3 linked regions of the Homo sapiens genome follow. The protein of the gene in region 1 purifies or fractionates together with the protein of each later gene. This does not show direct contact. Each region holds a gene or a part of one and is shown in the gene's direction. Other genes may lie near its edges. The genes, in order: PCSK1, ITIH2 and DCAF6.

What was found.
Region 2: the proteins of PCSK1 (region 1) and ITIH2 purify together in Homo sapiens (affinity purification with mass spectrometry; one large-scale study listed by BioGRID and IntAct). This does not show direct contact.
Region 3: the proteins of PCSK1 (region 1) and DCAF6 purify together in Homo sapiens (affinity purification with mass spectrometry; one large-scale study listed by BioGRID and IntAct). This does not show direct contact.

Annotation. Positions count from the first base shown.
Region 1 is NC_000005.10:96,389,761-96,392,627, reverse strand, and holds the end of PCSK1 (neuroendocrine convertase 1 isoform 1 preproprotein), read left to right. Parts: 3' UTR 1-2,295; downstream 2,296-2,867.
Region 2 is NC_000010.11:7,727,166-7,730,824, forward strand, and holds part of ITIH2 (inter-alpha-trypsin inhibitor heavy chain H2 precursor), read left to right. Parts: intron 1-537; coding exon 538-663; intron 664-2,786; coding exon 2,787-2,968; intron 2,969-3,659. UniProt on the Homo sapiens protein: May act as a carrier of hyaluronan in serum or as a binding protein between hyaluronan and other matrix protein, including those on cell surfaces in tissues to regulate the localization, synthesis and degradation of hyaluronan which are essential to cells undergoing biological processes.
Region 3 is NC_000001.11:167,943,118-167,946,776, forward strand, and holds part of DCAF6 (DDB1- and CUL4-associated factor 6), read left to right. Parts: intron 1-3,659. UniProt on the Homo sapiens protein: Ligand-dependent coactivator of nuclear receptors. Enhance transcriptional activity of the nuclear receptors NR3C1 and AR. May function as a substrate receptor for CUL4-DDB1 E3 ubiquitin-protein ligase complex.

The DNA of each region.
Region 1 (2,867 bases):
AAGAATGAGAAGGAGTCAGAAACTGTTTCTGTAGCTTGTTCCCTGTCTTGTCCATGTGGTTCTTCAAATTTTGATGCCAAGAAAGTATTTGGTAGGCCTAATGAAGGAGTTCACTGTAAGACTCATTCCCTAGATCTTTCTATTCCAAAGTGCCACTCATTCCTGTAGTCAAAATCTGGTCATGTTGGTCAAAAGCTGGATTATTTAGATCTAGAAACAGATCTTGAAATCTGAATGCTCTGGTTTGAGCAATTTTCGAACATTCTTTGCCTGGTGCACTGTGTCTGTGGTGCCAGAGGCGTCCGTGGATCCAGAGGTGGTTATGACTCGTGCTGCATGCCTGGTCTTTCCTCTGTTTCTCCTTCTGAAAGTTTTCTATACCTGTCTCCTTTCTCAGCCACAAAATAAATGTTGGGAGAAATGATATATACCACTTTCCCAGAAAAAAAAAAACTTACACTTGGGACTTGGCAAATTCCTAGTCACAATTTTTTTCAGCAGTAACAGGAAACCACTTATCACATGGAGACCTAATGTAATAATAGAAAAATACTCATAATAGGGAGAAACCAAGAGAAGTTTTGTTTTTGTTTTTTTCCAACTGTGTTCATTAGAACAGCGTGTTCTAAGTATTTGAAACTGAATGTTTATTCCTTGATACTAAAAGTTCTTCTCCAATCCTATCACTGATAGTGTCCAAATTCTCACCAAATTGCTCCTAAGCTTCAAATCAGAAGCAGAAACTGGCAGGCCATGGACCTTAATTGTCCCTCAGGTAGATTTTGTTTGGTATGCAGAATGTTTTTAAAATATGAGTGGTTATTGAAAATATGATGTTTCACATAAAACCTCATTCTCGGACCCATCTTTGCTCATGGCAACAGTTAGCTGGAGCTGAGTAGCAGCTGCCTGATTAGATGACTCTCAGTCCCCATGGCACCCTGCTCCATGTTACCTAGAGCAGGCACTTGATTCCTTGCTGGGCAGTATCCAATAGGCATTTGATTTTGCCCACTCCTACACTAAGCGAATGTGTACAAAGTGTAAATGCATTAGGAAAAACAAACTACCCGCATCTTCTGTTAGGCAGGATCTGTACAATAATAATTATGAGTTTGCTTATGTAATCTCACCTCACCTGGATGATCACTAATACTAATTCATTTATTACTAACCTTCTGGCTTCCTTCTCTCAATATGCTTACAAAGTCTCCAGTCACCTACAATGCTGGCTTTCTCCCACTGAGTTTGCTGTTTGCAATTTTTCCATGAAGTTTGAACTTCATAAGGTAATTCATGGCATTGAACTGGTTCATGAAAAGAACACTAGAGTCTGTCATTTGCTTTGGCTTGAAGTATGGTTGGTAACACAAATTTTCACCTGCTCTTCTACCATTTGAATTTGTGTAGAGGGTGTTTGCAGAGCAATGCCCGTAATGCTTAGAGAATGTTCTCCTAAAAGACTTGCGGAATCACTCTGTCCTTGGAAGTTTCATATATTGTTTGATATGAAGTGTTAGATAGAATTTCCAATATTGGAGCATATCAAAAAGTATTAAAACTAAAAAGGACCAGAGAATTCTTAGATTGGCCCGGAAAGGCCAATAAAGAGTTAGAATGAAAACTCATTACTTTTCCATTCCCAATCTAGTGCTAGATGTATAAATCTTTCTTTTGATTCTTCCTAACAAAATATTTTCTGGGTTAAAACCCCAGCCAACTCATTGGGTTGTAGCCAAAGGTTCACTCTCAAGAAGCTTTAATATTTAAATAAAATCATATTGAATGTTTCCAACCTGGAGTATAATATTCAGATATAAAACAGTTTTGTCAGTCTTTCTTAGTGCCTGTGTGGATTTTTGTGAAAATGTCAAAGAGAAAACTTATATACTATTTCCCTTGAAATTTTAAACTATATTTTCTTTACAGGTATTTATAATATACCAATGCTTTTATCAAACAGAATTTTAAAGAGCATAATAAATTATATTAAAGAACCAAAAGTTTTCCTGAGAATAAGAAAGTTTCACCCAATAAAATATTTTTGAAAGGCATGTTCCTCTGTCAATGAAAAAAAGTACATGTATGTGTTGTGATATTAAAAGTGACATTTGTCTAATAGCCTAATACAACATGTAGCTGAGTTTAACATGTGTGGTCTTGGTATTCTTAAGGGAACTTCCACATTATACATTTGATGTATTGACCAGAATATGTAAAATATGCTTATAAATCAGAAAAATAAATTGTTTCTCACTAAGTCAAAAGAAAAAAAGCTCATGTTTCCACCACAAACAAGATCTCCCTCTTTTATTGTGTTTCCCAAATGGACTATACAAAAGAAAAGCTGACAGTTTACATTAAGGAGTTAATTCCTTTTTAGGAAATTGGGCTTTCTTGGAGTCAATTTAAGAATCTACCTGAACAAGGTATGTTTTATTTTCCTCTCTAGCCCATCCTTCACTTTCTTGACAACATGCAAAGCTGTATGACTGAGCCTTAACTGAAATGTTGAGAAATGAACAAACTATCTAAACTAAACTAAACAGACTTACTACATGTAAGAGAAATGATTCCCAACATTTCACCAAATAGGACTTAGTTTACAGGCTAGAGTAAAGCAGCTAAGTGTGAAATCCTTCCCAGAGGTTCTCTCATTAGAACCCTCAAAGTTCCAACTTTTTTTTTTTCTTTTGCTAGAGTCTCACTCTTTTGCCCGGACTACAGTGCAATGGCATGATCATGGCTCACTGCAGCCTCCACATCCCAGGCTCAAACGATCTTCCCACCTCAGCCTCCCTTGTAGCTGGGACTACAGGTGTGCACCGCCACACCCAGCTAATTTTTGTGTTTTTTGTAGGGACAGG
Region 2 (3,659 bases), on another chromosome or scaffold:
AATCATGATTCACTTAAGAAGCATTATTCCCATCACAGTGGTCTTTCCCCAGCATTCGAGGGCCTATCTTAAATAATACATTTATTGGTAATGGATGAATGCTAAGTTTGTAGTGAAAGTAGAATTTGTAATACAGCCCACATAAGCTTTGAACCGTTTTAATGTCTCTCAGAAAAAGGTTCAGTGACACTGGCCTTCTTTATTGCCTGCATAAAGCATAAAATGTTACTATCTTCAGAGTATCTTGGCAAGGCTGATTTGGATACTTTAATCTGGTGTTTAACAAGCTAACAGTCTGTGCTTTGAAAGGGCTAGTTCATCTCTAAGGGGATAGTTTATTTCAAAGTGAATATTTCACTGCACTGGGGGACCACCAGCTTGAGCACAGTTTGTGTCACTCAGAAAGCAATGAAATGATTTTGGCATGGAATAAGTGATGGATAAGTGATCAGCCGACATATGAGTCTGAATCCAGAATGGGATTTTCTGCGTGTGGCGAGAACGCATACCCAACGTTTCATTATGCTACTTCAACAGGCACAAACATCAACGAAGCACTCCTACGGGCAATCTTCATTTTGAATGAAGCCAATAACTTGGGACTGTTAGACCCCAACTCCGTCTCGCTGATCATTTTGGTTTCTGATGGAGATCCAACAGTGGGCAAGTGTCACTTCAACCTTCTCACGACAAACACTTTCACTGTTGTTTCTTGGAATGGTGGTTTGCCTAAAAGGGGAACTCTAATGGCATTTGCCTGAGTTTCTAGAACATTTTAAACCCATGCTTCCTAAAGGAGGTCTTCTGATCCTGCAGCCCTCACCCCTTAAGCTACTGCTCAGACACTTTCAGCAAGGGCGCTCTTGAATGCCTCAGTTCCACCTCCACAATATGCAGAAATCTGAGTCTGAATTTTAATAGTATGTTGTGAGGATTGCTGATGCATTCTAGGGAAATGCATCTATTTCCTCAACTTGAGGTATGTGAAGATGGTGTATGGGGGTGGTGAATGATGAGTATTGATCCCAGATCTCCCAGCAGTACCTTTGGAGGCCACAGTAGCATATTCCCTATTATTCTCCACACTTCTCCCGGTTGCACCTGGAGAAATGACTGCTCTCTGACACAACCTTGAAGTTAAACATTTTTCTTTCTACAAAATGGGCAGCAACATCTCCCTACTTCTATTATTTATTTTTATTTTTGTTACATTAGTTTATTTTATTTATTTTTGAAGACAGGGTCTTGCTCTGTCACCCAGGAGGGAGTGCAGTGGAGCACACACAGCTCACTGCAGCCTCAACCTCCCATGCTCAAGTGATCCTCCTACCTCAGCCTCCTGAGTAGCTGGGACTACAGGTGTGCACCACCACACTCAGCTAATTTCTTTTTTTTCTTTCTTTTTTTTTTTGGAGAGACGAAGTCTCACTATGTTGCTCAGGCTGATCTCAAAATCCTGGGCTCAAGCAGTCCTCCCACCTCGGACTCCCAAAATGTTGAGATTACAGGTGTGAGCCACTGTGCCAAGCTATCTTTGTTTTACTTGTGTCTTTATTCTGGCCACTGTAAGTAATAGCGAATGCCAGATTGTGTTGCCTGAGTGTGCTGTCGTACAGACTAGGACCGAGTCTAACACGTCCTGACACAGCCAAGCAGAATGAAAATGCACGAGGCAAAAACAATGGCAGTCAGAGCTTTAGAAAGCCAGAGAGCAACCATCTTATTAATAACGAGACTAGAATGAGCCAGTGTTATGTATTTGTTGTAGAGCCAATGTTTTCTCCCTCAGATCAGATTATTTTCAAAATTCAAGTTTTGAATGAAATCATAAGGTGGAAAAGGAAATATAGTTTAAAATATTAAACTTGCCAGGCATGGTGGCTCACACCTGTAATCCCAGCACTTTGGGAGGCTGAGGTGGGTGGATCACCTGAGGTCAGGAATTCAAGACCAGCCTGGCCAACATGGTGAAACCCCATCTCTACTAAAAATACAAAATTAGCCTGACAGGGCGGCGTGTGCCTGTAATCCCAGCTATTCGGGAGGCTGAGACAGGAGAATCCCTTGAACCCAGGAGGCGGAGGTTGCAGTGAGCTGAGATCGTGCCACTGCACTCCAGCCTGGGCAACAAAGTGAGACTCTGTCTCAAAAAAAAAAACAAAATTAAACCATAATTTGGTTTAATCATGGTTTCTCACTCCTGTTTCTCAACCATTCAGTTCCTGTCCCTGGAATCAGTCACTGGTTACCAGTTTCTTGTGTATCTTTCCACAAATAGTTTATGCATGCCTGTATACTATATATACATGTTTGCACACATGTATGTGTATATGCATACATACACATACATACATTTATACATGCATGCATGCAAATGCATCCTAGGTACCCTGATATTTACCTTGTTTTTTTTTTCTCCTCTAAACATGCCCTTGAGATTGTCTGGTATACATACATAAGGAGTTTCCATGTCCTTTTTAATAGCTGCATAGTATCTCACGGTTTAAATGTATCATCATCTAACCAAGCGCCCTCATTGGTGCATATTTATGTTGTTTCCAATATGTTGCTAATTCCCAAATAATGTTGCTATGCAACACAACCCACACTTCATTTCAACATGTACGAGTGCATCTCTAAGAAAAACTAGAAATTGAGTTACTGGGTCAAAAGGGAAATGCAGTTTTAATCTGGACACACTTTACTAAACTGCCCTCCCTGGATTTTCCAGAAAATTTATGATATTGCTTCTTCATTCCTTTCCTTTCGGACATCACCAACTTTAGGCGAACTAAAACTGTCAAAAATTCAGAAAAACGTTAAGGAGAACATCCAAGACAATATCTCCTTGTTCAGTTTGGGCATGGGATTTGATGTGGACTATGATTTTTTGAAGAGACTGTCCAATGAAAACCATGGAATTGCACAAAGGATTTATGGAAACCAGGACACGTCTTCCCAGCTTAAGGTAACATTTTCTTCTGTTCTTTTTTTATTCTTCACTGGAAATCATTTAACTACCCATATCTGATGCAGGTATGATGCATAACTGAACTTAACTCAAAATGGTCATGATCTCAGCCATATTTGGTTGCAAGGATCAGGGAAGTGCCCAGTTCCTTTCTCACATGTTTCCCCCCACCCTCATATTTCTGCAGTAACAGTGAGGTATGAGGCAGATGGGTGTTGGGAACAGCTGTCCTACCCCCTGAACAAAAAGGCCTTCTGAGCGTCATCAAAGCTCCTTGTAGCTCTCCTGCCCCACCAGCAATTGGTCTTCTTATCATCATGGCCAACCGTTTTCTCTTTAACGTGCATTGGCATCTTGGTATCAATTTTTCACAGTGTAAATTTTCTTAAGTATTAAGATACAGGCTGAGTGTGGTGGCTCATGCCTGTAATCCCAGCTCTTTGGAGGCCAAGGTGGGAGGATCACTCGAGCCCAGAGGTTTAAGGCCAGCTTGGGCAACATAGTGAGATCCATCTGTTCAACAGATAATTTTTTTAATTAAAATACATATATTGAAAAGACACAAACTACTTGTTTGTTTTGATTAAATAGATGAGAAAATGATGTAGGGAAAGAACATGTTTTTCCCTGCTCTTTGTCAGTACCAGGCATCGTATTTAAATTTGGGAACAAGTAAGAGATAAGATTC
Region 3 (3,659 bases), on another chromosome or scaffold:
CCAGGATGGTCTCGATCTCCTGACCTTGTGATCTGCCCGCCTTGGCCTACCAAAGTGCTGGGATTACAGGCGTGAGCCACCGCGCCTGGCCGAAATTTGGTCTTTTTTAAAAAAATTTATAGTTATCCTGGCTATTCTGAACCCTTTCTATTTCCATAAAAATTTTAGAACTAGCTTGTCAATTTCTACAAAAAGACTTGGGATTTTGTGTTGAATCTATATATTATTTCAGGGAGAACTGACATGTTTACAATATGAATCTTCTCATCTGTGGTTCTGGTTTGTCTCCGTGTATTAAGCATTCTTTGATTCTCTCAGCAGTGATTTGTATTTTTTGGTGTTAGGTTTATCCTTAAATATTTCATATTTGTAATGCTATTTTAGATGATATTTTTATTTATTTTTACTTTTTATTTGTACAAATTTATGGGTACATATGCAGTTTTGTTACATGCATAGATTATGCTGCAGTCAAGTGAGGGCTTTTAAGGTATCCATCACCTGAATAACGTTCTTTGTCCTCATTAACGAATTTCTCATCATCCTCCCACCTCCTCATTCTTCCACTCCATTATGTATCATTCCACTCTGCATCTGTGTGAACACGTTTGTTTAGAACACACTTATGAGTCAGAACATCATACTTGTCTTTGTGTGCCTGGTTTGTTTAACCTAAGATAATGACCTCTAGTTCCATCCACGTTGCTGTATATGTCATGATTTCATTCATTTTTTTTTTGAGATGGAGTCTCACTCTGTCGCCCAGGCTGTAGTGCAGTGGTGAGATCTCGGCTTACTGCAAGTTCCGCCTCCGAGGTTCACGCCATTCTCCTGCCTCAGCCTCCCAAGTAGTTGGGACTACAGGTGCCCGCCACCACACCTGACTAACTTTTTTTTTGTATTTTCAGTAGAGACAGGGTTTCACAGTGTTAGCCAGGATGGCCTCGATCCCCCGACCTTGTGATCTGCCCGCCTCGGCCTCCCAAAGTGCTGGGATCACAGGGGTGAGCCACCACGCCCAGCCTGATTTCATTCTTTGTTATGGCTGAATAGTATTCCATTGTGTATATATACCACATTTTCTTTACCTGTTCATCCATTGATGGACACTTAGGTTGATTCCATATCTTTGCTGTTGTGAATAGTGCTGCAGTAAACATACTGGTGCACATATCTTTTAGATATATTAATTTCTTTTCTTTTTGTAAAAATCTAGTAGTGGGATTGCTAGATGGAAAGATAGTTCTATTTTTAATTCTTGGAGAAATCTCCATACTGTTTTCCATAGAGGCTGTACTAATTTACATTCCCACCAATGGTATATAAGAGTTCCCTTTTTTTCACATGATAACCAACATTGTCTGTCTTTTTAATAAAAGACATTCTGACTAGGATAAGGTGATATCTCATTGTGAATTTGATTTGCATTTCTCTTATGACTGGTAATGTTGAGCATTTTTTCATATACCTGTTGGGTGTATGCTTTTGAAAAATGTCTATTCATGTGTTTTGCCTACTTTTTAATAGGATTGTTAGATTTTTTTGGTTGTTGAATCGTTTGAGTTCCTTGTGTAGTCTGGATATTAGTCCCCTGTTGGATGAATAATTTGCAGATATTTTCTGTCATTCAACAGGATTGGTTGTCTCTTCAATCTGTTATTTCTTTTGCCATGCAGAAGCTTTTTAGTTTAATTGAGTCCCATTTGTCTGTTTTCTAGTATCTTTATAGTTTTGGGTCTTACACTTAAGTCTTTAATCCACCTTGAGTTGATTTTTATGTATTAGTGAGAGATAAGAGTTCAATTGCATTCTTCTGCATATGGATATCTAATTTTCTCAGCACCATTGATTGAAGAGGGTTTCGTTTCCACAGTGTATGTTCTTGTCGGCTTTGTCAAACATCAGTTGGCTGCAAGTATGCGGCTTTATTTCTGGGTTCTCTATGCTGTTCCATTGACCTGTGTGTCTTATTTTTATACCAGTAACCTGCTGTTCTGGTTAGTATAGTCTTGTAATATAATTTGAAGTTAGATAATGTGATGCCTCTAGCTTTATTCTTTTTGCTCAGCATTGCTTTGGCTATTGGGGCTTCTTTTTGGTTCCATATGAATTTTAGGATTGTTTTTTCTAATTTTGCAAAAAATTAACTTGGTATTTTGATAGGGATTGTATAGAATATGTAGGCTGCTTTGTACAGTATGGTCATTTTAATGATATTCTTCTGAATATCCAGTGATCATGGGATGTTTTTCCATTTGTGTCATGTATAATTTCTTTTAGCTGTGTTTTGTAGTTCTCCTTGTAGGGATTTTACCTCTGGTTAAATATATTCCTAGTTTGTGTGTGTGTGTATGTGTGTGTTTATAATTTCTTTTTTCTTTTTTTCTTTTTTGAGACGGAGTCTCACTCTGTCACCCAGGCTGGAGTGCAGTGGCACAATCTCGGCTTACTACAACCTCCGGCTCCCAGGTTCAAGCACTTCTCCTGCCTGAGCCTCCAGAGTAGCTGGGACTACAAGTGCGCACCACTATGCCCAGCTAATTTTTGTGTGTGTGTGTATTTTTAGTAGAGACAGGGTTTCACCATGTTGGCCAGGATGGTCTCGATCTCTTGACCTTGTGATCCACCCACCTTGGCCTCCCAAAGTGCTGGGATTACAGGCGTGAGCCACCACACCCGGCCTTTTTTTTTTTGTTATTTGTAGCTATTGTAAATGGGATTGTGTTCTTGATTTGGTTTTCATTTTGAATCATTATTGGTGTGTAGAAACACTACTAATTTTTGTATGTTGATTTTGTATCTTGCAAGTTTACTGAATTCATTTACCAAATCTAAGGGTTTTTTTTTTTTTTTTTTTGAGACAGAATTTCATTCTGTTGCCCAGGCTGGAGTGCAATGGCACAATCTCAGCTCACTGCAAGCTCTGCCTCCCGGGTTCAAGTGATTCTCCTGCCTCAGCCTCCCGAGTAGCTGGGATTACAGGCATGTGCCACCACACCCGGCTAATTTTTGTAGTTTTAGTAGAGACAGGGTTTCACCATGTTGGCCAGCTGGTCTTGAACTACTGACCTCAGGTGATCTGGCCACCTCAGCCTCCCAAAGTGCTGGGATTACAGGCATGAGCTACCGCGCCTGGCAAATCTAAGAGTTTTTGTGGGGAGTCTTTAGGTTTTTCTAGATATAAGATCATATCATCAGGAAACAGGGATAATTTGACTCCTTCCTTTATAATTTTGATGCCTTTTGTTTCATTCTCTTGCCTGATTGCTCTGGTTAGGACTTCCAATACTATATTGAAGAGTGGTGAAAGTAGGCATCCTTGTTTTCTTCCAGTTCTTAAAGGAATGCTTTCATCTTTTCCCTATTCAGTATGATGTTAGTTACAGGTTTATCATATATGGCCTTTATTATTTTGAGGTATGATCTTTCTGTGCCTAGTTTACTAAGGGTTTTTCTTATGAAGGGATGTTGAATTTTATTAAATTCTTTTTTCGCGTCTATTAAGATGATCATATGGTTTTTGCCCTTCATTCTGTTGATATGATGTATCACATTTATTGATTTGCATATGTTGACCTATCCTTGCATTCCTGGTATAAAACCCACTTGATCATGGTGTATTATCTTTTTGATTTGGTGTTGGATTTGGTTTGCTAGTA